4 linked regions of the Homo sapiens genome follow. The protein of the gene in region 4 interacts with the protein of the main gene of each other region in a pairwise test. Each region holds a gene or a part of one and is shown on either strand. Other genes may lie near its edges. The genes, in order: TIMM23, MEP1B, STX2 and TSPAN8.

What was found.
Region 1: the proteins of TSPAN8 (region 4) and TIMM23 interact in binary tests that used the Homo sapiens proteins (3 or more experiments, as listed by UniProt).
Region 2: the proteins of TSPAN8 (region 4) and MEP1B interact in binary tests that used the Homo sapiens proteins (3 or more experiments, as listed by UniProt).
Region 3: the proteins of TSPAN8 (region 4) and STX2 interact in binary tests that used the Homo sapiens proteins (3 or more experiments, as listed by UniProt).

The regions. Positions count from the first base shown.
Region 1 is NC_000010.11:45,982,470-45,989,497, reverse strand, and holds part of TIMM23 (mitochondrial import inner membrane translocase subunit Tim23), read right to left. Parts: intron 6,976-7,028; coding exon 6,882-6,975; intron 6,653-6,881; coding exon 6,568-6,652; intron 4,891-6,567; exon of another isoform or gene 4,687-4,890; intron 4,116-4,686; coding exon 4,057-4,115; intron 762-4,056; coding exon 651-761; intron 1-650. UniProt on the Homo sapiens protein: Essential component of the TIM23 complex, a complex that mediates the translocation of transit peptide-containing proteins across the mitochondrial inner membrane.
Region 2 is NC_000018.10:32,207,036-32,214,063, reverse strand, and holds part of MEP1B (meprin A subunit beta isoform 1 precursor), read right to left. Parts: intron 6,813-7,028; coding exon 6,594-6,812; intron 5,946-6,593; coding exon 5,793-5,945; intron 3,564-5,792; coding exon 3,348-3,563; intron 949-3,347; coding exon 505-948; intron 1-504. UniProt on the Homo sapiens protein: Membrane metallopeptidase that sheds many membrane-bound proteins. Exhibits a strong preference for acidic amino acids at the P1' position. Known substrates include: FGF19, VGFA, IL1B, IL18, procollagen I and III, E-cadherin, KLK7, gastrin, ADAM10, tenascin-C.
Region 3 is NC_000012.12:130,801,241-130,808,268, forward strand, and holds part of STX2 (syntaxin-2), read right to left. Parts: intron 5,851-7,028; coding exon 5,742-5,850; intron 3,304-5,741; coding exon of another isoform or gene 3,260-3,303; exon of another isoform or gene 2,853-3,259; coding exon of another isoform or gene 2,717-2,852; exon of another isoform or gene 2,413-2,716; intron 249-2,412; coding exon 175-248; intron 51-174; coding exon 1-50.
Region 4 is NC_000012.12:71,154,991-71,161,937, forward strand, and holds the start of TSPAN8 (tetraspanin-8), read right to left. Parts: upstream 3,010-6,947; 5' UTR 2,940-3,009; intron 2,820-2,939; exon of another isoform or gene 2,798-2,819; 5' UTR 2,689-2,797; coding exon 2,629-2,688; intron 1-2,628. UniProt on the Homo sapiens protein: Structural component of specialized membrane microdomains known as tetraspanin-enriched microdomains (TERMs), which act as platforms for receptor clustering and signaling.

The sequences.
Region 1 (7,028 bases), on a different chromosome or scaffold from region 4:
TTCTGCACATATATCCAAAAAAAGAAAGAAGGACCTTGAAGAGATATTTGTACATCCATATTCGTAGCAGCATTATTCACAATAGCCAAAAGGTAGAAGCAACCCAAATATTCCTTGATAAAAGAACGCACATGCAAAATGTGGTATACATACACAGAATGAATATTATTTAGCTTTAAAAAGGAAGGGAATTCTGGCACATGCAACAACATGGATGAACCTTGAGGATATTATGCTACGTAAAATAAGCCAATCAAAAAAGGACAAATATTGTATGATTCTACTTATATGAGGTGCCTAAAGCAGCCAATTCAGAGACAGAAAGTGTAACATTATCAAGAGCTAAGGAAGTGGTAAATTGGGAGGCTTAATAGGTACAGAGTATCAGTTTTGCAAGATGAAAAAGTTCCAGAGATTGGTTATATAATCATGTGACTATAATACTAATGTACTGTATACTTAAAAATGGTTAAGATGGGTAAATCTTATGTTTATTTTACCACAATTAAAAACCAAACCAAACCAAAATAACCATAAAGTTAGAACACTAGATTATACTGCAACAGAGTGTAATTTCCTTGAAAACCATGAATTTTAAAAAGCGCACTTCAAGTGTATTAAGAGATGGCTCCCCATTCAACAGTACTCACCTGTACATTTATACAACATGCCTGTCATGGTTCCAGCTGCTACTGTGTTAAGGTCATCTTCTGCACCTCGTGTTTTCTCAATGATGACACCAAATGCACTATAGAGCAAAGCTAAAGAGGAAATGGAAGTGCTCAGTGACAAAACAGTGATAAAGTGTGATATTATGATATACATATATTGGTTTTCATCCATGGTTCCTAGCTCATAACTCCCATAGCCCTTCCTAAGTGACTAAAACAATCACTTGTTAAGGTATTTGTCCTTGGTTCTGGAATCAGCTTTGGAACAGCTTCAGAGGGACAAAGGTGAAGGTCTTTTGTTGTATTACTGGGGCACTTCAGGCCTCAGAAGCAGCCTCAGAAACAGAATCTCTCTCTCTGACCTTCTCCTGCCCTCCTTTCACCTACTCCCTTTTCTCCCCACAGCAGGACTCTAATCTTTCCCCACACCTTTCTGTCTTGGAACTGGCCATAAAGAAATTCTATGACCTACCTTGTCTGATTGCAGGCTGTAAGACCCCCATTTCAGAAAAGATCGTACCCCATACCCAGGAAGAAGAAATGCTGCACAGAAAGGCCAAGGGAGAATCTGGGCAGGCAGGCCTTGCTGGGTTTCTGTGCCCAGTCTATTAGTAGTAGAGCATGCCCTTTTTGTCCAATCACAGTTCTATAAGGTTGTCCATGCTTCAGTCATGCCTATCCAATCAATTTTCCACATGAGGCCCAAGTGGATGGGGTCGGAGGACTTTCTGGACAGCTGAACTCATGGGACTTGCAGGAAAGTGAGAAAGAACTCACCCACGTGTCAGGAGGCTAGTGCACCCCAACTCCAGTGAAATGAAAGCTCCTGCACTCAGGGCCCATCCAGGCCTCACCTTATGTATTCCTTGACTGGGCTATTTGTATCCTTTAAAAATATCCAGCCAGGTGTGGTGGCTCACAAAGTTTCTGTAATCCCAGCACTTTGGGAGGCCGAGGTGGGAAGATCACATGAGCCCAGGAGTCAGAGACCAGTTTGGGCAACAACATAGGGATACCCCCTTCTCTAAAAAAATTTAAAAAAAAATTAGTTGGTATGGTGGTGCATGTTGCCTGTAGTCCCAGCTCCTTGAAAGGCTGAGGTGGGAGGCTTGCTTAAGCCCAGAAGTCTAGGTTGCAGTGAGCTCCACTGCACTCTAGCATGGGTGACAGAGCAAGACCCTGTCTCAAAAAAAAAAAAAAAAAAAAAAAAATCTTTATAATAAATACGCAAATGTTAAGTATGTGTTCCCTCGAGTTCTGTGAGCCAATCCAATAAATTAATCAAACCCAAAGAGTGGGTTGTGGGAAACCCTGACAAAGCTGGTTGGTCAGAAGCACAGGTAAAATAACCTGGAGCTTGCTATCAGCATCAGAAGTATCCAAAGTGGGGCTCAGTTTTGTGGGACAGAGTGCTCAACCTGCTGATCTAATGCTATCTCCAGGCAGAAGTGAAACAGGTGGACACCCAACTGGTGTCCACTGCAAGAGAGATTACTTGGTATGTGGGGAAATATTCCCACATAACTGGTCACAGAACTATCCTATGTTGACTGTTGTAGTGTGAGAGCAGAGGAAAAACTGTTTTTTTTTTTTCAACACAAAAGTCAGTATGGCAATTATATTTAGAAAAATTTATCCAAAGATATACATGGAATGATCACTAGAACAGTTTCTAATAGCAAACACCTGGCAACAAATAAAATGCCCATCAAGAGCATTTGTACCATCTGAATTGATCCAGAGAGGGACTTTTCATATAATGGAATACTATACAGTCACTTAAAAACCAGAAGAATCATTTTCACTAATAAGTAAATCAGGGACATGTGCACATGGTACACGACTGACTGGCTATGCAGAGAAACGCCTGGAAGAATTCAGAAGAAACATCAATAGTAGCTATTTCTAGAAAGTACCGCTAGGAAGTCTCAGGAAGAATATTTAAAATTTTCATTTATATGCTACCCATAATTGCTATACTTCAGATTAAAGACACACACATACACACACACACACACACACGTATTTCTAGTATAAGAAAAAATAGATTAAAAAAAAAGTGAGGTTTGATTCTCACGTATTATAACACTAGCACCATTTCATTTTAAAGTATCTTCCCCCAAGCCATCCTTCTATGCTCTTGCAGATTCCTATCTGGAACGAATGTTAAACTTTTAAACTCTTTCTCAAAATTATAGCTACACTTGCCCCTTGCAACAATACACCGCGCTCAGCCTTACAACTCCTCTACTGCAGTATTTTTATACTTCTATGAAAGCTCATCTTCCTCTTCAACTTATTTAACTGAAACTGATCACGAGCAGAACACCCTTCTTGATCATACCACAATGGGTACACAGAGGGTGACCAGCCATTCTAGTTTGTCCAGGACTGTGGGGCGGGGTGGGCGGGGGGTGATTATTGGAACATAGTTTCTTGGACTTTTCTCTGACAGTCCTACGCAGACAAGGACAGCTGACTACTCTAGGTATACAAGCAATTAAAAGAAACAGAGCGGGGTGACTCTGTAGGAGGGTGGGAGGAATGCAGACATCAGCAACATATGAAAGCAGCCATCTCTTAGGATCCAAAGTGTGAAAACTAGCTTTACAGTGTGAAGATGTACTGCTTCCAAATTCTGTGACAAGGCAGGACCTTACCCTGCCATAACAAACGCTTTTTCTATGTTTTCAATGAGTTTTCTATGTCTTCCCCTCCTTAATCTGCCACAATTTAAATTGAGATTTTCAACTAAGTTCATACAGTAGGAAAATTTTGGATGTCAGGACATAAGCCATAAGAGATCTATTGTAAGTGATCAATCATTCATAAACAATATGGTATGAAAGCATAAGGCTCTGACTAAGCACTACTAAGTTACCTTTTGCCTAGAACTGCAAACGTTTTCATTATCTACAAGGAACCTATTCCAATTGTGGCAATTAGGTGCCTGAAATCTACTCAGGTAAACAGACTAATGAACCGGCTATTAAGAAAACATAGCAAGAGGGCTGGATTAATTTATCATGTATCACTACAGGACCTTGAACCTTGCCTAACATACAAAGCTCTTTACTTTGGACCTAAATTACCTGGATTTCATTTAAACATGATTTTATTGGGTGTTGTGCTTGGAAAGGAGAGTGTGCAGTGTCCAAAAGATTTTAAAAATTCAGCAATGGTATTCAGAACGGTATTAGCACCTGAGATTATTTCATAAGTTAGTTCATGGTCTTTCCCTAAGTAGTATCTACATTATGCATTGGAATGGGTTTAAACATAATTGTCTCATATCCTAGGACCAGAATATGGGTTGATCAAATTGTTCATGATATTTGTGCATTCTTTCTTTAACAATTTATTATCAAATGAGATCTCTACTTACCCAGAGAACCTAGAGTATTAGCCCAAAGTGCCCCTTGCCTAGTCACCATATTCAAAATCCTATCAGGGCAGAAAGAGAAAGAATCTGTATTTAGAATCATTATTTCTCTAGTAACCTTTAAAAACAATAATGGCTATTTAACATGTCTAGACCCAGGGCGCAAAGTTTTTTAAATTCTAAAATACATCTTAATATCTCCGATTTCAATAAGGATGGTTTTTACTCTACATAAGTGAAAATTAGGTTAAAACTTTCAAAACTTTAGGCAAAAGTCTTAAGGACTTTTATATAAGTCCTTAATAATAATAATAAGGAAAACTCTTATTATTAAATGTATAATATAATGAATACACATTAAATATATATAAGGCTTTGAATGACAGCCTGGAATGTATCTTACAGAGGTTTACAGAAACTAATCTATGTAAAAAATGCCACTGTTAACTATGGCGAGCTAGCTTCTAAAAGGTTCTTTTTGGGAGGGGAACATATGCTTAGAATGTTAAAGATAATCAAAGTAAAGAATATCAAAGTACAGAATATAAAGTAAAGAATATCAAAGTACAGAATATAAAGTAGAATTAAAGAGAAGGAATCAGCCATCTAACTAGAATACATGGGGAAAGCACCCTGTGTCTGCTCCTAGACTAGAACCAAGCAGCCAAGGTGAATGCTCAGCACACTCTCAAGGAAGCACAGTTCTGCCTTGCACCAGTGCCAGACACCACCAGAACAGTGATGGACGCAACTGGATGAAGAGAAGACATTCTTCTCCCAGCAGTGTAACATGATCCCAGGAATGGTTCTGTCCAGACAGCTGACTACTGCTGGAAATTATGGAAATACAGTAACAAAGAGTGAAGGAACTCATTCAGTTTAATTATTAAACGACTCAATTAATGTTCTACAGAAACAAAAATTTGTATTTTCTAAAAGATTGTTTTAAAAAATCAGTAATGTTTACAAACAGAAGTATATTGTTTCTAATTATGTTACATATTTACTAACATATTTTAAGTTCAGCCATCATTTTTTCATTTTTAACAAGCATTTTAATAACTTGTTTTAAGAAAGGAAGCAAGTTGTCTTTTCTAGGAGATCTACTTCCAAATTTGTATTTAATATGATATTGGGGTTTTTGTCTCAAAATAAGATGGGAGAGGAGAAGGAAATGGGATAGAACTGGCCATGGTTGATGGTTGTTGAGGATGCGTTATGGTTCATGTGTTCACTATGCTATGTATTTTGTCTACTTTTATATATTCAAAATTCCCCATAATACAAAAACTTAAAAATATTATTGAAGCGAGGGACAAGTAATAAAAATATTGAAGGATCTAGGCTGGTAAAGCATGGACAGAGATCCACACAGTAACAGGAATATAAAAAACTTAACAGGGCTAGGCGCAGTGGCTCACATCTGTAATCCCAGCAGTTTGGAAGGCTGAGGCAAGAGGATCACCTGAGCTCAGGAGTTTGAGAACAGCCTGAGCAATACAGTGAGACCCCGTCTCTACAAAAAATTAAAAAATTAACTGGGCATGGTGGCATGTGCCTGTAGTCCCAGCTACTCGGGAGGCTGAGGTGGGAGGATCACTTGAGCCCAGGAGGTCAAGGCTACAGTGAGCTGTGATGGCGCCATTGCACTCCAGCTCAGGCAACACAGCAAGGCCCTGTCTCTCAAAAAACCACACAATTTAACAGGCCTTCCAGTTTCCCATGGTCTAATTCTAGCACATCTGGTGCCATCTGCTGGCTGAACAATATGAAAGGAAGATGGAGTTTAAAGTGTCCTAAAACAAAACAGTAGCCATCGAAGAATACATACTCATGATTCCACTTACATGAAGCATAAAAATGGGCAAAACTAAACATATTGTTTAAGGAATATCAAGAGGGACTGGCCATGTTTACTTCTTAAGTTGGGTGAAAACATACTTTCCGATCCTTTTAACTGTACTTTCCCTTCTCTGTAACTTCAAGTTCTAACAGAAAACTGTGTCTTATCCTTTTGGAATTAACTCTAATTCTAAAAATTTTATTTAAAATGTATCTGGCTCATCATTTCGGAAACATAAAGTCAAGACAGTAAGAACTTCAAGTTAAATGATGGCAGCTTGAGCCATCACTCTCATGAGCTGCTTATTCTTCATTACCATTTCCTATGGATCTGCATGCCCCCAAACAATCCAAAATTCCCATTAGCAACTCAACAATTTGAAAAGCAAGTCACATAGGGTTGGAGAATGTAACAGGTGCAGCTGAGAAGTCAGGCTGGCATAGCACTAGCTGACTGAGGGACACTGATTAAAAAAATCACTCCTTTTTAAAAGCTTAGAGTCAGTAATCTGATTCCTTAGTTGCTTTTATTTTGATTAAGATTAAAAAACAAAGACAAAAAAGCACATAACTATGCTAACCATCTGTAATCTCAAGGTTGTACTCATCAAACCAATACAACAGAGCTTAATATTCAAGTATCACTACATCAGATGGTTACAAGAGACTTACTGTACATTTCTTGGTTTGGACCAGGCCATGTTCTGGGTTTCCTTCAATCCTAGCCGAAGACCATTCATTGCACCAAACGCAGCCCCTGGTAAATCATAACAATTCACCCAGATAAAGACAGCTTTATATTAAAAAAACAAACTCAAATCTGCATAACTACACTTCTGATTCTTTTTCATTTTTATTTAATAGAAAAAGACAAATGTAAATATTAAAAAAAAAACCCTGAAACCAACATTCTAATTGCTTTTGATTTTACGCACCCTCAACTACTTGAACTGAGCACTCTTGAGAAAAAAGTATGTAACACTCACCTGTCATGCAACATCCTCCAATCGTAAAGAAGGCCAGCTCAAATCTGCCCCGGGTTTTATTAGCTCCGGTAGGTAAAATAAACTCATCTGTATCCTAAAAGGATAATAATGAAAACCAAGCTGAGTGTCCCTCAAGACACAAATCTT
Region 2 (7,028 bases), on a different chromosome or scaffold from region 4:
AGCATGAGTTAGAAGAACCCAACATCTGAGGGCCTCTCCACCGCAGGCCTTTCCACAGCTTCCACACTTGACCTGTACTAATTCTCATAGCAAATCTGTGGAATGATTACTACAGCCCTGGCTTTACAGCTGAGGACACTGGGGCCCTAAGAGATTATTTGCTCAAGATTACATAACTAATGAGAAGCAAACTTTGGACTTGAACTCAGGCATGTCAGACTCTAAAACCAACACTTCTTGCACAGAAGTGGAAATTTGAGAAGGGCCATCAGTTCTTAGGAATACAGTCAGCATTTGTTGGAGTCCTTGCTGACATTTGTGATGAGCTCCTGTCTGACAGACTCAGTCCACAATTCTTGAAACCTTTCCCCTAAATATCTGTTCTTAAGATTTGGGGCTCAAAATTCCCTAGGTAACTAACTGTGCAATCCCTCATTCCCAAAATTATCAGTCCCTCCTAGAGCAATGATTGTTTATTAGCAATAAAGAAAATGAGTTACGAACCGGTGGTCATAAATGGGTCTGTAGTTATACTCCGCTGATTGGACATACGCTGTCGAATGTCAGGATTTTGATCCAAAAGTGTCATTGTGGCTTGTTGCCAAGGACATGGCCACTGTAATTGATCATCATTGGCTCCAGAGATCAAGTGGAAATATATCCCTGCATTAGTCACATGGGCTAGATTTAAGTAAATCTGAAAGGCATAACCTTTAGAAGAGTAAAATGGAGGGCTATACAGAGTTCCATTTGGGCTGCCAATGAACTGTGTGAAATTCCTTATATGCCAGATATGATGAGGGCACCGTGTTTCCGAAAGATTGATGTCATCAATAGACAGACCACCCAGTGATGCACCAGAGCCTTTGCGTCCTTCAAACACCACTCTAAACTTCTTGGTCACTTTCAATGTTACATGATAAAGTTGCCAGCTCCCAGTGGGTATTTCTGCAAAAGAGTCATTATTATTTCAAAGACAAAGAAGTTCAAATCATGTACATGTCAACATTAGATTTCTAGCCTTCTTAGACAAAGGGTCATCCAAAACCGATTTATTTCTACAGGTCAGAAGTATGGTTTTGCCAAAGCTCCAGCCTAGAATTATTTACTTCAAGGTGCTTCTGTGGGGTCACACTGTTCTCTGGAATAGCTGAACGTTTGTCTAGCTGTTTCTCAAATAGATCACCCTTTCCTAGAGATCGGTGAGTAAATAACAACATCTAGCTCATGAGTACTTCATGCCCTACCTATGAGTTACCTGCCATTCTCCATTAAAGGGCCAGCAAACCCAACACTTGTAACACTTCTACTCAAGATTCCTGTGATACTCAGGCAAAGCCTTCTTTAATATATTTATAGTTTGATTGGAATACTTCCCTCACATACAAAGTCTTCAATCAACTTTTTGGTAATATTAAACAAAATCCACCAAACCCTAGAAAGCCTACATCCTGCAATCTACTCTTTAGATCACTTCCCAGTAACTCAGCATTGTAAGTATTTATCTGATATTTGGTACCACCTCCTTTCTTTCCAACCTGTACTTCCTCCCCAACTATTAGCCCATACCCCTCGCTAGCAGCACATAATATGCCATTCTGTCTGATTTTCTTATATCACATACTCAAATAAGAAGCAGTATACTAAATAATCTGCAGAGGCCCCCAGATGAACAACAGCTGAGGAATTCATGTCAAACTAGTGGTTAACACAAAGTCTTAAAACAAAAATATGTTGGCACTTAATGTGAAACACAGTTACTTGAAAATAAGCTAGACATACCCAAATGACAGAAAATAAGCAAGCTTCTTAAGTGCCTTTTTGTGTTATTGTGTATCAATGACGAACCCACAGATTGCTAATAGGAAGGACCCCCCTTCCAGTCCTGGACAATTATATATATTACAGATACATTATATCAATATTTGTATTAATTTAGATATTAATACATAAAATATAATATTTATAGTAACATATATGGCTTATATATAAGGCTTTTATATATGTAATATATAATATATTATATATAATTATTCTTTATATATTTTACATTGTTACATAAATAATATATATGTATAATGTGTGTATATGCTTAGTGAGATTAAGAACCTTACTGCTTACAGGTGTTCACAAAGAAAAATATCGCCTGTATTTCAGATTGTTTCTCATTGTTGAAAACAGGAGGAAAATGGCATACTATATTGCATAATATGGATCCAATTGTGGAACAAATTGAATTACTCAATTCATTCAAGTCATGAGATGATTAGGTGGAATAGACAGTAATATATTTGCCAGCCCACAGCCCCTCCCTTTCTCAGTCACCCCCTTAACCATCTACTTGCATAGGTGGTCAACATGGCTCTCCTCTCTGACACATTATTGGTATGAAGGGTGGGTACCCATTTCCCACTCAGGAATTGCTCCAGAAGCTGTGTTTAACTTAAGACATAAGTATCCCAGTTCTTCACTGGGATTTATTTTTTAAGCTTTATATTAGAGGAAGAGTCCTTTTTCCAGACTGATAGCAAATTTGGTCAAATGTAAGCTGGGAAGTGAAACAACCGAAGTACCAGTCTTATAAAGACAGCCATTCTGAGATAAAACAAGAGGTCCCCAGCAATGTTCAGAGACAGATCTATTAATAATTCCCCCTCAAGCCAGTGTCTCCCTCATCTGTCCCACAGGCTGTAACTAACATTTAGCCAGGAGCCCATCCTATTTTGCCTAAGCTAGTTCACATTGTATTTTTATGTATTTTATTTTTATTTTATTTTATTTTATTTATTTTTTCAGAGATGGAGTCTTGCTCTGTCGCGCAGGCTGGAGTGCAGTGGCATGATCTCGGCTCAACTGCCACCCCCGCCTCCCGGGTTCAAGCAATTCTCCTGCCTCAGCTTCCCAAGTAGCTGGGACTATAGGCGTGTGCCACCACTCCCAGCTAATTTATGTATTTTTTCAGTAGAGACAAGGTTTCACTATATGTTGACCAGTCTGGTCTCAAACTCGTGACCTCAGGTGATCCGACCGCCTCGGCCTCCCAAAGTGCTGGGATTACAGGTGTGAGCCACTGCGCCCAGCCTTGTATTTTTATTATTTGCCAAGAACTGACCTCCATAGTGCCAGAGACTGATCTACAGTTTCTTAAGTGAGTGTTACATAACAGAGCACTCAGAAAGAATCTTCATTCTAGCTTCCTTTCCACAGCTTAAAACAAGAATCTAGTTCTTAGTTGAAGTATAGTGACTCAGTAGCCCCTGCCCTATTGTAAATTGTTGCATTAACTAAAGAAAAGACCTAAGATTGCCTCATTTTAAATCCAGACAATAAGGATGTTGACATTGTACCTTTTATTTCTTCCACAAGGGTTAAATTGCCATCCACATTGTCTGCAGAATACTCCCTGATATAGATGTTCAGTTGATCACTTTCACTGCCACTGTTATATAAGTAAAATTGCAGGCACTGAAATCCTCTTTTAGGGTACAGCGTTCTACTTTCCAGCACTGCTGTGGCCCCCACATTTACAGAGCTGCTATCGAAATGCATGAAGAAACCAGAACCTGTTAAAGAAAAGCAGAATTGAGAGAAAAACAGATACTGGGTATAGGAATGTGTGTTTGTTAATGGTGGTGCTAGATTCTTTACGCGAGGCATAAGTAACATCCATATATAAATCGCCAGGGAGAAATGACAGAAGCCTAAGCTACATATCTGGCACTTGCAAAAGCTAGCAGATTGACATAACAGTATAAAACTCAAACCTCTCTATTATTTATAAAACGTTTACTTACAATAGTAGTTTTCCGTGGGCACTAATCCTTGCTTATCTTCATTTGTTATGAGCTATAAAGATAAAGCAAGTTTAAGTATCAAATGCTAACTTTTTAAAAATCCACTGTAAGGCTGCAGGTCAAGCCCAAACAGCAGGGCTAAAAGGTAGATTCTACATGGGACACCTTTCAAGTGTCCAAAACCCTGGTCCAGCTCCAAGTGGAAAGAGCTACCATTGGACAAAGATGCTACAGAGGGTTGTTCCCCCGCTGAGAATATGAAAAAGGAAAATGGAAATTAAGTCAAAACGAGGGTTTGAAACTTGGGTGGGTAGAGAGTTGTAGCATCTGTGTCTCCCAAGGGTAATTCAACGTGAACTTCTAGGTCTTTCTGGAAAGGTGAACACACACTGCGGACAGAGGTGAGAGTCCAGCCAGGAAACCAGGGCCTTGGCTGACCTGCCCGCCCCCCTTTTTTTTTTAAACACTTTCTAACTTCTTTGGCTTCAAACTGTCACAAAAAAAGAAGGAAGAAAAAAAGAAAAGGAAGAAAGAAATTCAACTTTCAGAAGATATTGTTAACTACAGCAACCATCTGGGGAGATTCACATTTTAATATTTTTAAAATGATACTTGTAATGAAAAAATTGAGAATAACTGAACCTGATAATTTCAGAGGCACCTCCCACTTATCTGCTTTCATTATCTGCAATACTTAACCTTCTAAGCCATCTCTAAAGAAGGCACAGCTAGTAATTCTGGTTTGAGTGTATATATATTTTCTTTCATTTTTTTTTTTTTTTTGAGACAACGTCTTACTCTGTTGTCCAGGCTGATACGCAATGGTATGATCTCAGCTCACTACAACCTCTGCCCCCCGGGTTCAAGTGATTCTCCTGCCTCAGTCACCCAACTAGCTGGGACTACAGACATGCACCACCACACCCAGCTAATTTTTGCATTTTTAGTAGAGACAGGGTTTCACCATGTTGGCCCAGCTGGTCTCAAACTCCCAACCTCAGGTAATCCGCCCACCTTGGCCTCCCAAAGGCCGGGGATTACAGGCATGAGCCACTGCACCCGGCCCAATTTTCTTTACCTTATTTCAAGTATTCGCTTAGTTTCCACTATATGCAGGGAATTGTGTTGGGCATTTAAATATGGTTCTAGGAGCAGGCGATTTATGAAAGAGACAACATTAGGGAACCTTTCCCTTACCACAGAAATTAGTTTTCAAAAACAGAAAAAAGTGAGAGCTACCTGGTCTGGATTCTTCTTCTTTTCCCCCTCCCTCCCTATCTACTTTCCTCTGGTCTGAGTAGGACCACTATCCACTATCCAAATATGCATTTAAAAAGAAAAATAAAAGGAAAAGCACCTTTTTGCCATTAGAGGCCTCCAATTCCTGCCTAGATCATCTGAGCTATTAAGCACTGGCCCTAAGTTCTGAAGTCTAGTTTTACATATTTGATGCCAGAATAAGCAAATACGTAAAAATTTGGTCCTTGTAGCCAAATAACTACTTAAGGCAAAACAAAATGAAAATGGAAAAGGATACGCATCTGAAGAAAATTAAATAAACTCTGCTTTTTAGATATTTTTGTAACAGGAGCATATAATCACATCCAGCTACAGTTCTGAAACAATAATTCGCAGCCTAGTGCTGTCCATTGGAAAGAGTCTCTTGTATTCTGCAAACTTCTAGGAAACAATAGTACTGCCCCTGAGATAAGAGGCCTTGCAGGAGGCCCAGTCTGGTACACTCTCCTATGGGAACGCACTGGTAGAGGCATCACAGAGCCCAGCTCTGACTTGTAGAAAGAAAAATAAACTCAGGAAGGAAAAGCAAAGAAATTAACAATGTCTTTATCAGGTGCAAGGCCTACTTCTCAGTAGTAACCTAATGAATAATCATTAATAATTCTGATAGAAATTAGAGATAAAATCCCATTCTTTCATAGAGAAGTATGTGGCTGTAGCCACTGAGTATACAGTCTAGGAATATCTCACTCCTGTTACCTTGGCACTGGCCCATGTTGGAGTGATCACTCTCTGGCCCCCTGGGAACCTGTGAAACCCGTTGCCAGTCAGCATTATCTCCTGAACTTTGGATCATGCCACACACATTTTCCAGTTCAAAACTGCACGAGTCCATAAAACTCAAGGAAGAGGCTACAAAAAGCAAAAAACAATTATTGACACTCATACAACATGATAATCTAAGTAACAAAAACTGAACTTATCACAGTATTAGAAATGCCAGGTTGGTATTACAGGGAACACCTAGCTGATTCTGGATGATGGTGGCTTAAAGATCCCTCTTTATTTGCAGAACCCCTACAAAGAAGGTAATGAATTCTGTAGATCTGAATAAGCTCCCTGCCTGAAGTCTTTTTTAAAAAAAATTTTCTAATTTGTAGAAACCTGAGTCTATACTCCCCTAGTTATTCGAATCATTAAGCCACAATCCAGATTATTTGATCCCATTCATATTACAACTAGACATATCATTTTGGCTAAAAGGAAGTGTGAGTATCAATCTGACCGAGGTTTGAATTAGTAACAGCTTTAAAAACTTGCCTGAGGCATATTCCTACAGGACCCAATTTGTTTTTAGATCTCAACACCAGACGTGGTGAAAAGAAAAATGCTGCTTCCAAGTTGTAGATTGAGATCTGAGTGCTATTCTGTTTATTTCCTGAATATCAAATCTCTATAATCGCAGAAACCCCACCAATGCTTGACAAAATGGCACAGACCATCATTTTTTCCTACATAACAGCGGAAAATATAAGTCATTTCAAAGAACCTGTCACATACAGCAGTTATACAGTTGATTCAACTTTAGGAGATCAGAGTCACTGAAATCCATTCGTTGGCCGATCACATCCTCAAAGTCTGAGATTCTTGTGACAATTGTCGGCTCTGTTCCATTTTGGAATGCAGTTTTACTGTAGTGCATTACTGAAGTGTAATCATAGGGAACATTCAGGGAATCTGATATATCGTCACTATAGGTGTTAAAATTGTGCTCTCTGCCTAAAGGATAAATAAAAAATCTTTACTTGATGTTCACAAAATTCAGCTTATCTTACTCCAAATACTGCTCACTTAGAAATGGAGAATATAATAAACTCAAGCAATTTTTGCTACAACTAACAACAGTTTCATTATTCCCATCTTACAATATAATATTCAAGCTTAGAACTGTGATACCAGCAGTCACACTGAACATATCTAAGGTTCTATTGCAGC
Region 3 (7,028 bases), about 60 Mb from region 4:
GACTCGATTTCATTGAGAGCTTGTCTAGTAATTTGTGAATCTGATATAATCTTGGAAAAACAAAAATAAAAGATAATATTAATAAACTTATGATGGGTTTGGAAGTTAAAGGGTTTTTAAAAAGCTCTGTCTACAGAAGAGGACATGGAGCCACAGGGCCGCACCCCCACTCACGTCGGAAGTGAAGATGGATGGCTTCCCGCTCTCCAGCATCTCTTCTAGCTCGTCGTCTGTGGTGGTTCTCCCAGCTGAAAGACCCGCAACCACAGCCCCACTCAGAATGCAGCACAATTTAAAAACAAAGCCATTTGCAACCATAAGTTAGCAACTACAATCATAGTTGTTAGCATTTTTCAGTAATTTTTTTAACCTTTTCTTAAGCAGATATTGACAATGAGAAGTGAACCTAAGATTGAGGAGCAAGAAGAAATAAAAATACTCCGAGAAACTTTGTAAATGTTATAAACAATAAAATTTCATTTTAATATTAGTGAGAAACAACTGCAGAAAGGAAATCGGTAAACAATGTCTCGGCACACTGGTTTCCCTAAGAGTTTAACTCCGCCTCATGTAAAAGGGGGTTGAGCTGAATGTAGCATGTATTAAATGAGGATCAATAAAGTCCACGTAATGAGAGTCAGATGCCTGAACACTTTCCATGTTTGGAAGTTAATGCTTTCCTTTTGAGTTAAATGTGTAATGACTTCGAAGAAACATGTACACAGGTTTTGGAAACCTAATTGTTAATTACTATTTTTCATAGTTTGTGCCACAGAAGACAAAAGTAAATGAATAAATGTCATAATTCAAATGTCATCTAATAAGCAGCATTATTCATAATTGCCAAAAAGTGGAAACAACGCAAACGTCCGTCCCCCGATGCCTGAAGGAGCTAACTGCGGTCTAGCTGCACACTGACATACGACTCAGCCACAAAAACAAAGGACGCTTTTGGTTTTTGTCGCTTTGTTTTTTGAGACAGGGTCTCACTCTGTCGCCCAGCCTGGAGTGCAGGGGCACCGTCGCAGCTCACTGCAACCTCTTCCTCCCGGGTTCAAGCAATTCTCATGCCTCTGACCCCTGAGTGGTGGGGACTACACGCGTGCGTCACCACGCCCGGCTAATTTTTGTATTTTTAGTAGAGGTGGGGTTTCACCATTTTGGCCAGGCTGGTCTCGAACTCCTGACCTCAAGTGATCTGCCCACCTCAGCCTCCCAAAGTGCTCGGATTGCAGGTGTGAGCCACCGTACCCAGCCCTTTTTATTTTTTTAACAAAGATACGGTCTCACTCTGTCACCCAGACTGGAGTGTAGTGGTGCAATCTCAGCTCACTGCCGCTTTGACCTCCTAGGCTCAAGCAATCCTCCTGCTCCAGCCTCCCAAGTGACTGTGATTATAGGCACACACCCATGCCTGGTTTATTTTTATTTTTTTTTACAGAGATGGGGTTTTGCTATGTTGTCAAGCTGGTCTTGAACTCCTGGCCTCAAGCGATCCTTCCACCTTGGCTTCCCAACCAACACGCTGGGATTAGTATACATGTGAGCCACCACACCCTGCCCACCCCATGGTGAAACCTTGGAAAAACTGTGTTACAGGAAAGAAGTCAGTCACAGAACACATAGTGTATAATTCCATTTATATGAAACATCCAAAATGGGAAAATGTACAGGAGTAAAAAGTAGAATGCAGTTGTCTTGGGCTAGGAGAGGAAATGGGGAATGACTGGTGGTGGGTGTGAAGTTTCTTTTTGGGTTGATAAAAGTGTTTTAAATTGATTGTGTGTGGAAATACACCAAAAACCACTGAATTAATTGTATGCTCCAAATATCATTCACATATTAAGAGATTTACTTCTCAATAAAGTTGTTGAGATGTCATTTAATGAAAAAAGTTTTAAAGTTAGTAAATTGCAAAATTTGTTTACTTACACTATTTTTTGGGAGGTAATTCTCAATCATTTAAAAATCTATTTGAGAGCACACATGGTGGTTTACATGTATAATCCCAGTGCTTTGGGAGACCAAGGTGGAAGGATTGCTTGAGGCTAGGAGTTTGAGACTAGCCTGGGCAACACAGCAAGACCCTATCTCTACAAAAAATAAAATAAAACTTAAAAATCTATTCAAAATAGCTCAATAAGGAGATTCTCTGAGTTTTGCTTTGCTTTTTTAAAAACATGAAACTTGTTCTAAATAATGTAAAATATAATCATCAAAACTAGAAATTTCAGCTTGGGCAACATAGTGAAAACCTCGTCTCTACAAAAAATAAAATTAGCCAGGTATGGTGGTGTGCTTCTGTGGTCCCAGCTACTCGAGAGGCTGAGGTGGGAGGATCCCTTGGATCCAGGAGTTCAAGGCCACAATAAGTGGTTATCACAACACTGCACTCCAGCCTGGGTGACAGCGTGAGGCTCTCTCTCAAAAAAAAAAAAAAAAAAAAAAACAAACTAAAAGTTACAGTTCATGTCTCACGTTCACAAAGGTCTTCCCACCGGCTAACTGCTAAGTCTAAGAAACAGCCTGGGGTTACAGAATGTGAAATGCAGTATACATTCGTAATTCCTTATCCAGAATGCTGAAATCCACAACATTATGAAAACTGGGTTTTCCTTAAGCTCGATGTCAAAATTCAATGAGCGGCAAAATCTGACCTAAACTGAGTCATGGCTATTTATAATCTTAACTCCTCCCCCTTACTGTGAATACTCACATTTCACTGGAGAGCTGTGTGAATGTGCCTGATTACAGGGTGCAGTCCTAGACCCCACCTGGGGATTACATAATACACCTCTTATACATTGTACTATCTTCCTAAAATCTGAAAAATTCTGAACTCTGAAACACATACAGCCCCAACCATTCCAGAGAAAGCACTGTGGACCTATGTAACATGCCCTGGTCCAAGAAGAAACTCACTTGCCATTTGAAGAAACAAAGCATACAGCACAGGAAAAGATATCCTGTGATACAAGGTAAGAAACCTGCCTGATGACAGGGCTGACGGAAGGAAGAAAGAAAGGGGACAAAATGGTTTTAGGTGCAAGGATTTGGAGAAGACCACTGTATGAAGACAGCCCGCTGTGTGGCCAGAGTGACGCCATCCTGAAGCAAAACCACCGTGATGACCGATGCTCGACTCGTGCATGCCAAGCTGTTCTGCAATGAGGTCTGAAGACGATGCCTCCGGCACAGGCAACCTCTCATCAAGATGCTCATCCAGCCTGACCAGTGGTCCCAAGTGTTGTCAAGCAAGTCAGAAGACAGGGCCGGCTGCACACGTTCTACCCTGAAAGCCTGCTGTATAAAGAACACTTTCTGAGGGCAGGCGGCTGTGGGGTCCACCGTCTCTGTCTCTCGGGGGCTTCTGTTCGTACGTCCCTAGCCAATGTTTCCTTCGAGAAACTGGATTTGTTAGCCTCTTTCTTTGGCGTCTCAGCTCGCTCAGCCTTTGGGGGTGAGTTTGCATAGACCTGCTCACTTCGGAATAGCCACATGGAGGGTTTAGAATTTAACAGACTTAAAGGAATTACTAAAAAAAACTCCCAACACGTATATGATACTTCATTGCTTATAAGACACTTTCACAAACAGTACTGCATTCGATAGAGTATGATTGCAAGAGAAGAAACTGGAAATGAATTCTGTGGGCTGAGATAGAATAATGTGGGAAAGAGAGAAGAGACTTAGGCGATCTGATCACGCCACCGGATTCACATGGGGAGTGAAGACAGGATGGACCTGCAGGAGAGATGGTGCGGGGCCTTCAAGCCCAGGCTGGGGAACTCTGTGCTAGAAAAGCGCTCACCACAGAGTCCCAGAGCATAAATCCTCACAGTGCAACCGGCTGCCTGTAATGATGACTTTCACTTTAAAAAGTACTAACAGATCCCTGAAGTCAAAGTGGTTTGTAAAAACTTTTTCATAGAAAAGCAGTCTAGTCGACATCATGATTGAGCATTTCTGCCAGGATGGAGCAACAGGGACCGTATTTTCCCTGCCACTTGAAATAACCACAAACCCACCAAAATCTACAAAACGATTTCCAAGACACTGAGCATCAGGCCACACACTGATTCCCAACAGATGGAAACAAGCCAGGTGAGCCTGCTGCTGCCCTCAGACGGAACTCTCGTGTCAGCCACAGAGCAGAAAGGGCCCAGGTGGAGCCCAGGGGAAGTCCTAAGGCAAAGGCACAGAGCTCAGGGGAGACCAAGGCAACTGGATTTGCAAGATGGAGTATGAGAGATGAGAGAGATGCAGAGAGCGAGCTGCACAGACCCCGCATGCTCACTGGAGTGCTGACCAGCATGCCAGAGGGAACACGCTGCCAGGCAGACGAGGGTGCCATGAGGTTCACGGCCATCAGAGCAGGTGCTCAGAAGGGTCTTACCTCAGGAGTGAGGAATGACAGGCCCTCAAATAAAGCTGCTCTGCTCCCTCTAAATGCAAGATCCCAAAGGCTAAACCATGCTCATGTGATTTAACTACATTCTAAAACAAAGCCCAAGGAGATTTACAAAAATACTCAAAATACAGAAATACTCAGCACCCAACAAAGTAACGTTCACAATGTCTGGCACACACTCGAAACTTACCAGGCTCGCAAAGAAGCAGGAAAACACAAGCCACAGAAAGGAAGGAAATCAACCAACCAGAGCAGACAGGACACTGGAGTTGGCAGACAAAGACGGTTCAAGTTACTACAAGTGCGTCCCAGTTGTACAGTGGGGAGCAACACAGCAGACATGTAAAACACCCAGCAGAACTAGCAACAGAAACCAGTGTCTCCGATGAAACATACACCAGAGGAGGTTAAAGGCAGATCAGACAAGCAAGAGAAACTGACCAAAACCAAACACACTGGAAAAGAGTATCTAAAACATGAGGAGCCTCGCTGAGCTGTGGGACAAGGTCAAGCGGCCTGGCGGGCATATGACAACATTCTCTGAGGGGGATGTGCGGCGTTGGGAGCCGGGATGGGCCTGAGGCTTCATCTGACCTGCGAGCTGACACGCTGGCCTGCCAGGGCTCCGTGGGGGCCGGCAGAAGGTCCAAGGCCCCAGGTCAGGGACAAAGGGATTTCCTACTCACAGCACAGCAGGCAACCTGAGGCTCATGAGCAGCTGTCCACGGCCCCCAGTCTCATGGGGAGAGGCAGAGCAGCTGCAGTGGGACGTCCTCACAGTGGGTTTGTGTCACAGCTGAAGGACCCGAGCTTGGGAACCCCAATCTTTCACAATGGGGAGTCTACAAACCTGACCAACCTTTATCCCTGAAACAGACCCGTCTGTCCCCGAAGAAGGCGCCATCTCCACTGCCACAGCCAACTGTCCCCATAGACACCCCTGAAAAGAGTCTGGGGCAATAGGGCCGCTGCCTCTGCTCACAGACAAGGAGAGATGTGAGGAGCCATGAAGATGCCCCCGAACCAGGGCAGGGCGGGACTGAGGACACAGAAACACTCAAAGAGGAAATGACTGAGCACTCTCCCAATCTCCCTGAAACTCTAAAAGCAACAGCAATGAGCAAGGTAAACCCCACCGCTTAGGACTTCCTGAAGACAGGAAGAACAGGTTTGCCTGACTCACGGCATAGGAAGCTACGAGTGGTCTTTGGGTTTTACACTATTGGTGAAAATAGACATGGATTTCCTTTTCTGAAGTTAAAGTCATTTGAAGTGAGACCTTAAGGGAGAAAAACATGATTTTAACAAAGACGGAGTCTCCATTACTCACTTATCTCCAGCTGGCGCTGGATGCGGCCTTTGCTCCGCTCCCGAAACAGAGTCTGTGCCTCATTGTACTCCGCCATGGCTTCCACAAACTTCCGAGACAGCACCGAATGCTAACAACACAGGAAAACTACATTCGTATCTGAGGGCCATGCCTTCTACTGAAAGTGACATGCAAGACATGCATTTTGGAAACTCAAACTACATGTTATTCTGCTCCTGCAAATGGAAAATGACAATGGCAAAGTCCCCATGGCAGCATCTGTGCTAAGAACTTTGCATGCATGATCTTACCTAATTTTTACAAGACCCCTACTATGCCGGTCACAACCCTACTTAAAGAAAACCATGACTTTGAGGTCATTAGCCCAAGGTCACAGGCTTTTCTGATAAACACAGATCAGCACTGGGACCCAGGCAGGTGGACCCCAGAGCCCGCGTGCTTCATCGCCTTGTGCCCATGAGGGGACCCAGGCAAGCGGACCCCAGAGCCCGCGTGCTTCATCGCCTTGTGCCCATGAGGGGACCCAGGCAGGCGGACCCCAGAGCCTGCGTGCTTCATCGCCTTGTGCCCATGAGGGGACCCAGGCAGGCGGACCCCAGAGCCCGCGTGCTTCATCGCCTCGTGCCCTCGAGGCCTCAGGGCTCTGTCTTCCTCTGGGCAGTACCACAAACCACTAAAACGTGGCGGCCTTACCACAAACACTAAAATCATTTGGATAATTCCCTACTCTTTGGAATAGAACTCTGTTGATGGACCGAATAGATTTTTCTTCACAATAAAGAGATTTCTATAAATACTGTGAAAGGAAAATAAAATCGCAGGACCTCACACTCACTATCCCAAAGGGACAGTTAAGCTTGGGAACTGAGTCATGCAAAACACTGCCCTCCCTCCTCTTCTCAAACAGATGGCTGCAGTGACAGAAGGCCGCACATCGCCCCAGCAGCCTCCTGCACAAAGTGCTCACAAGGAAATTCCTCGTAGGTCCCAGAATCTTTCAGAATCCATATCCCCCCCACCAAAAACTAACTCTAAAACAGAGTTCTGCAGAATCTCACCCTGACAATGTACATTAGCCGCTTACCTTCACAGGTACAGGACAAAGACAAGACTAGAAGTCACCCTCGGCCCACCCTGAGAAATGCATGTATAGCTCCTCCCTCACCTCAGGCTCACACTGGCCCACGTAAGAGGCGGATCTGGGCACGGGAGGAGTGCAGAATCGACCCCCACTCCTCTCTTCCCACATGTGAAATGTGAACGCAGTGAGCCCTGAGCAAAGCCTCA
Region 4 (6,947 bases):
TATTGTTTCATAAGGATACTTAAAGAAATACTAACTTATCACTGTTGGATAATATTAGTAACTTAACTCATCACTTGCAATCTGGTAAGTAAAGAGTGAGAAAGAAGTATTTTATGCCACTTAAAAAATATTAAAAATGGGATACCCAGGTAATTAAACAGTAAATGAGAAGTTTCTCCTTATAGAAAGTGTTCCAGCTAATAAAGAAAGAAAAGTTGATGAAACTAGAATATCATCACTTTGAACCACTTAATGAACTAATGATGGATTTTGGCACTTGACCATCAATGGCTACGAACGTCACAAAAGAGGGACACAATCAAACCTCCAGTGCCTCCTCATGAAAGAATACAAAATCACTTATGATTGTCGTGTGAAAAAAAAAGGACCTTGAATTGTATCAGGCTGCACCACAGGTATGCAAACAGCAAAATCCAGACTGTGGGCAATGTGATAAAACAAACAACACACACCAGTGCATAAAATTTCAGTAGGGAGAAAAAGAGATGTTGACTGAGGGAGAATCAACAGATTAAAATAGACATGAAACATATATTAACCAACCACACAGTGTGGACCTTATTTAGATCCTGATTCTAACAGGAACATTTATGAGGTAATCGGAAATTTCAGCCCTGAATGGGCTCAAATTTGACAGTTTGATTAAAATTGTCAAATCAATTTGACAATTGATTTAAAAAATTCTTATTAAATTTTTAAAGTGTAATAATGATATTGTGGTAACATTTTTTTTTTTCTGAGATGGAATCTCACTCTGTCGCCCAGGCTGGAGTGCAGTGGTGCGAGCTCGGCTCACTGCAACCTCCCCCTGCCAGGTTCAAGCAATTCTCCTGCCTCAGCCTCCCAAGTAGCTGGGACTACAGGGGCGTGCCACCATGCCCGGCTAATTTTTCATATTTTTAGTAGAGGCAGGGTTTCACCATGCTGGCCAGGCTGGTCTCAAACTCCTGACCTTGTGATCCACCCATCTCGGTCTCCCAAAGTGCTGGGATTACAGGCGTGAGCCACTGCGCCTGGTTGTGGTTACATTTTTTCAAGAATTATTATGTTTCAGAGATATATACTAAAATGCTTACAGACAAAATTATATATCTGAGATGTGCTTCAAAATAATATGGGGTGGGGGAAGTGAATACAGTAAAAATGGAGAAAGATTGGCCATCTTTCTGTGGCCACCTGGGCTGGCCAATGGAGTTGATTACCTATCCTATCTTCTTTAGTGAATATTCAAAGTTCTCCAAAAAAAAAAAAAAAAAACAAACAAAAAAAAAACTAGAAACAAAACAAAACCAAAGAATACAGGTCTTTCTTTTTTTGTATAACCTGCTCCCAATGTTTAATCAATTTAAGTATCTCAAGGGAAGAAATGTATCAGAACTAACTAAAAAACTGGCATATATGTAGCATGAGCTACATTAAATATTTGCAAAAGCAGCCCATTTTTTTAACCTAAAAACAGCAGCCCATTTTTTTTGCCTTCTTTATTTTACTTTTTTAAATATTTACTTACTTATTTAAAAGTCACCAATATATCCATTTGTACTCATTAGCACTACTGATCATTGAATGGAAAATCAGTCTATACAATAAAGCTGTATTCATGTAGTTAAGTTTAATTAAGTTCATCATTATTTTAATAGAACAGAAATATAGCAACACATAGGTATGAGATGTCTGTTTACTAAAGATCAGGTACAAAAACAAAACCAGAGTTCTTTCATCCTTGGAGTGGATAAGGTAGCTTTTAATCCAGTATACAAAATACTTTTTTCATTTAAATACTTTGTGCTATTTCCACTGATTGACATTTAAACAATCTTTAATTGTACCATATATGCTAAAAATGATAAGGTCAATGTCCCAACATCCCAGCCTGCTCTTTTCATACCTTGTTTTTCCATTATCTATTGATAGATATCAGTTATCAATTTGTTGGTTATGTCTATGTCAATGGACTTTCAAGAGAAACATAACAAATTGCTAAAATACAAATCCTGTCAATTAAAAGGTAGGGTGATGACACATCAAAATACTGACTTTAAAATGCCAATACATATATATATCCACGGTCTTAGTTTGATTTTCTTATGATTTAGGAATTTTATCATTTCCCCCTCAAGTTTTTCATGACCCATTTTTTTTGTCTTTGAGGCTCTGAAAATGATCTTTATTGTCCCACACCCTGCGATTCACCTGTTCAAACCCAGAAGTGAAGGGCGGGAATCAGGACCCGGGCTCCGGATGGAATCAGACCATGTTTTTACCACAGAGTCCTTAAATTAGGGAGGCCTGCTTGATATACAACTAAGGAAAATTGTCCTTTAATTAAGGGGCATTTGTGTTCCTCTGTGATTTTTTTTTGCAGCAATATGAAAACATTTATGAAATGTTTATCCTCACATTCTGAAGTGCACTTTTTTGAGTCCTTGGCTCATTTTCAATTACTGAAATAACCAAAGAAAGAACAAACAAATCCAAACAAGTACATGGAAAATACATTTTCCCCCTTCTCTTATTTCTCTAGTGTACAGTCTGTTCTTGTTTATGATATTTATATCAAGATCCCCTTTCTTGCATAAAATTGATAATTAAAAGGAAAACACTTACCCAGAACAAGAAGTTGAAGGTAAACATAGAATATTTTATACAGGCACTCACACCTGCCATTTCGGAAAAGGATTAGGAATCCAGATGCCGTGAATTTAACTATTCGTTACAGGCTTGTCCTGCAATATGCTCTGGAGCAACTTGCCTGCAGAGATTTCTGTATCCACGGCTTCAGAGCAGAAAGAGAAAGCAAAGAAGTAGAGGGAGGAATAAAAAGTTATTAAACTGGATAAAAAAATTAACCCACACATTTAAATATCGCAAAGGCTATTAACCCACACATTTAAATATCTCAAAGGCTATTAACTCACACATTTAAATATCGCAAAGGCTATCTCCAGGCAAGTATGTTCCTTTGCTTGTCATAGCTCCTGGGGCACTGGGCCAGGATATTTATGATCCTTTCTCAAAAACTGCCTCCTCTAAAGTAAACAGATATCAAGTGAAGGGAATGGCACTGGATCAGGCAAGAGAATGGCACAGTGCTACTAAGTTCTTGGCTTTCAGAAACCACTGCCTGACTTCCCCGCCCTCCATTTCAACTATGGGGAAATAAGGTTGTTTTGTTCTGAGTTAAATGGACATTGTATCTCTACTCATTTTTGCATTGCATTTTCTCAATACTACAAAATTCCTTCTAAATGCAATAAAATGCATTTAGAAATCTGCAAAATATCAAAGCTTAGACATAGCAACCTGTTATCATTAAACCTAGAATAGTAAAATAACCATTACATGTATCTGCCCTCCAAAACATCTAAATTTATTTCAAAAGAATTCCAGAGCTGCCGTAAATACACCACAGAAATTGCAGAGGGAGAGGCAGCCTTGCCTATCATGATAAGACCATTTGCTTTTTATCTTTATTTCTTTATGATACAAAGGGAAAGAAATCATAAAGTGGCACTGACTGCAACATTGTTTTCATTTTATAATGCGTAGTCATTCTGATAGCTTGGTTTGTTTTTAAGGTGGACACTGTAATTTCCTTCCTCTGATAAATTGTATCTAGCAACAGCTGTTCTCCACCAACTCAGTTTCTGGATTCCAGGTCCTCCCGGACAAAAAAATTCAAAATGGGAAGGTGGTCATGGATCAGTGACCATAGATTTTACTATTTGTTTCTAGTGCTAATAGAAGGCAGCTGTCTCAGGTAAAGGCAAAATGCTCCGACATCATCAGGGAGGTGTGGACTGCTTTGTGTAAACAGCCTGGGTCATGTTAGTTTCCACATCCTGCCTCTCAAAGGGAGTTCTTCTCCCCCTAAATAAAAGAACCCTCTACTTTAAAAGGTTGTTGAGAAAATTATTCTTTAGAATCTTTGCTAAGTTTTACACGATAAGCAAGCATGAACTCCTTACAAAAGAAAAATATTATTTCTAATTTTCACTGGCATACAATGTTTTTGAAACAATTCTACTCCCTGACTACAAATACAATATATTTTAATGCATTATCAACAATAATATATAGCGTTAAAGGCCAAATTTAGGATTAATTCCAAAAATAATGGCTTAATATATAAATCATCACTAAAATTGTTTGTGTTCTCTTTCCTACTAGAAAATGGATAGTTTCACAACCTTCTATTGAGATATTTTGTATATAGAATAATCCAAGGCTGAAAGAATAATTTCAGATTGAATGAAAACCAAAATTGATTCATAGTCCCAGAAATGATTATTTATCAGAGGCTAAAATTAAAAAAAAATTACAGATTTAAATGCTGCTTTGTTGAAAAGAATGTATTGAATACTACCAAATTTTAGTTTGAAATAGATATTTTGGTGGATGCTGAACATCCTTAAAAAGAATACTGTGTAGTCTTTAGTTGAATCACTCTTGAACTCTGTAACACAAAAATCAATGGATGTGTTTGTACAGGAGAATGACTGTGTAATAGAACCCCTAGTCTAATTCAAAACCTATATGAAACAGTTCACTCCTGGAAATTCCTATTCCTATTAATGTTATAATCACACAACACTCTCCCAGGCTGAATTTGTACAGATATTTTGTATTTCTCTTTCTTTCCATCCAATCACTCTTACTGGTCTGTGTAGCTCCTAAATTACTGTCAAAACTATTTCTTCCATCTCATCCTTTTGCATTTCATTATTCAGTCCTTTATCATTTCTTACTTGAGCTGTGTCAATAGAATGAGAATTAATTTCCCTGGCAGTTTCTCCCAGTTCCTCTCTGCCTTAGCACTTTAAAATTCTTTTTGAGAAATACTTATTGATTAGGTAATGATAATGATGAAAACCCAATCTAAGGATATTTTCCTTTTACCTACAAGATAAAGTTCAGATTCCTTAAAGTAGCATTTACAGCACACAGCAAACAAGTCCTCCACCCACTTTCCAGAATTTTGTCCCTCCCCTTTCTTCCTAGGCAGCCTCCACTTCTAGGCTCCATAACCACAGAATTATTTCCCAGGCCTAGAACACACCTTTGGATTTTATGCCTTGTTCCTTCTGCCTGGAATATCCTTTCCCACCTTCTCTATTGCAACATCCCTGTGGAGCCTTCCCTTCCTCATCCTCTGCCCCCACTCTGGGCAGATTTACTTGCTTCTCAGTCCTCAAGTCCATTATTATTTGAACAGACCTTAAATCTACAATTGCCACTATATCACATTTATTTGTGTCTCTCCCCCACATTTGATTCTATATGCCTGAAAAGCAGAAATCTTACCCTATTCACCTCTGTACCTACAGTAGCTGGCATTAGAGCTACAGAGATTTGCAATGGCAGCCAAGCTCCTCAGAAAGTTCAACTAGTGATTTCCTCATTAGGTTCTCTAGGGAACTACCAATATGCTACCTCTGCCTTTAAAAAATCTATTAGGTCAAGAAAAACAGTTTATTAATTTCAGGACTTGTCAGAGCCTTCAACTTTCTAATATTCAAGGAGGTGATATATAGCAATTCTGAAATGAATATAATCTCAGAACATATTTTTGAATGACATATTCAGGACTGGTGTTACAGAACACACATACGCACTTACAGAAGCACTGTTCTAGACAAACTCTCACTCTTACACCTGAGAAAAGAGCAGCATAGGCAGATTGAGTAGCCCAAGTTCACAAAACTGGTTAGATCTCCTTCTAGAAACAAGGTCACAGGATTATCAGATCAGTATTCTGTCTACTGGCGTCAACAATCTCTTGAGTTCTGTAGTATGAGAATGAGTCATTTACTCATTACTCATTTAACGTGTCTTAGATATTGAGAAATTTTCATATAACAGATATTTTAACAGTGGTGGGAGGTTGCAGGGGTTGGAGATTGTCAGTAATAAATCTTAGACCCTGTGAAAGACCGGGCCAGTAAGGAAAGAAATGGAGAGTGAAATATTATAAGAAGAAATGACAATCGAGGGAAAGAACAGAGGGAAAGTCTAAGTAAATTTAGATAAAGTTTTTCTAATGTTGCCATCATGCCAATTACTATTCATTGCAGCAAATGCACAGAGTAAGGCAGGATAATGATTCCAATTTGATTAATTGTGAAAAGTCTCCATGAGGCAGTCATCAGTGAACTAGATTTTGATAGCAGTATGGGAACCCATGCAGGGGAAAGAAAGAGAGAGAGAGATTCCTTATGCTCAGGGCAGAGGAAAGTGCATGAGTAGTACCATCAAATACCCCACAGAAAATATGGCATTTTCTCTAAGTCATCAGGCAAACCAGGCCTACGTTTGGGACTTGGACCAGAAATTAAGCATAGATAGTTCATATTTTCATCATGATATCATCTTCTCCTCCATAAGATAATATTCAAAAATTTATTCAACTGATGTATTGAATCCTTACCATATTCCAGGAATGAGACTAAGTGCTGGAAACATAGTAATTTATGAAACAAGATAAAAATCCCTGCCTTCCTAGGCCTTACACCATGGTGAAAAGGTAACTTCTTTGCCTTTTTGTTTCCAACATCTCGTTACCCGATATATTTGTCCATGGAATAGACAGTAAAAAAGCAATTCATGTGTGGTAGAGAAAAGATTATTTTTTTCTCTTGTCTTTTATACTCTCCCATTATCACTGTCCCTCTATACTATTTGTTTTTCATGACGTTGTTAATAATCAATTCATGTTCTCAAAGGCTAACAGCAGCAATAAAAACATAATGTTGAGATTTCTCTTCCTTATGACTGTACTGAGGGGTGTGTATGTAAGGACATGAGATCATACACTCTGAACAATTTGAGTGAAGAGATTCTGGTGCTTTTAGCATGTCTCATTTTGAAAAACCTTTTTTATTTTTGGAAAGTTGGAGTTCTCACTTAGGGGTTTTATGGTCTCTTTT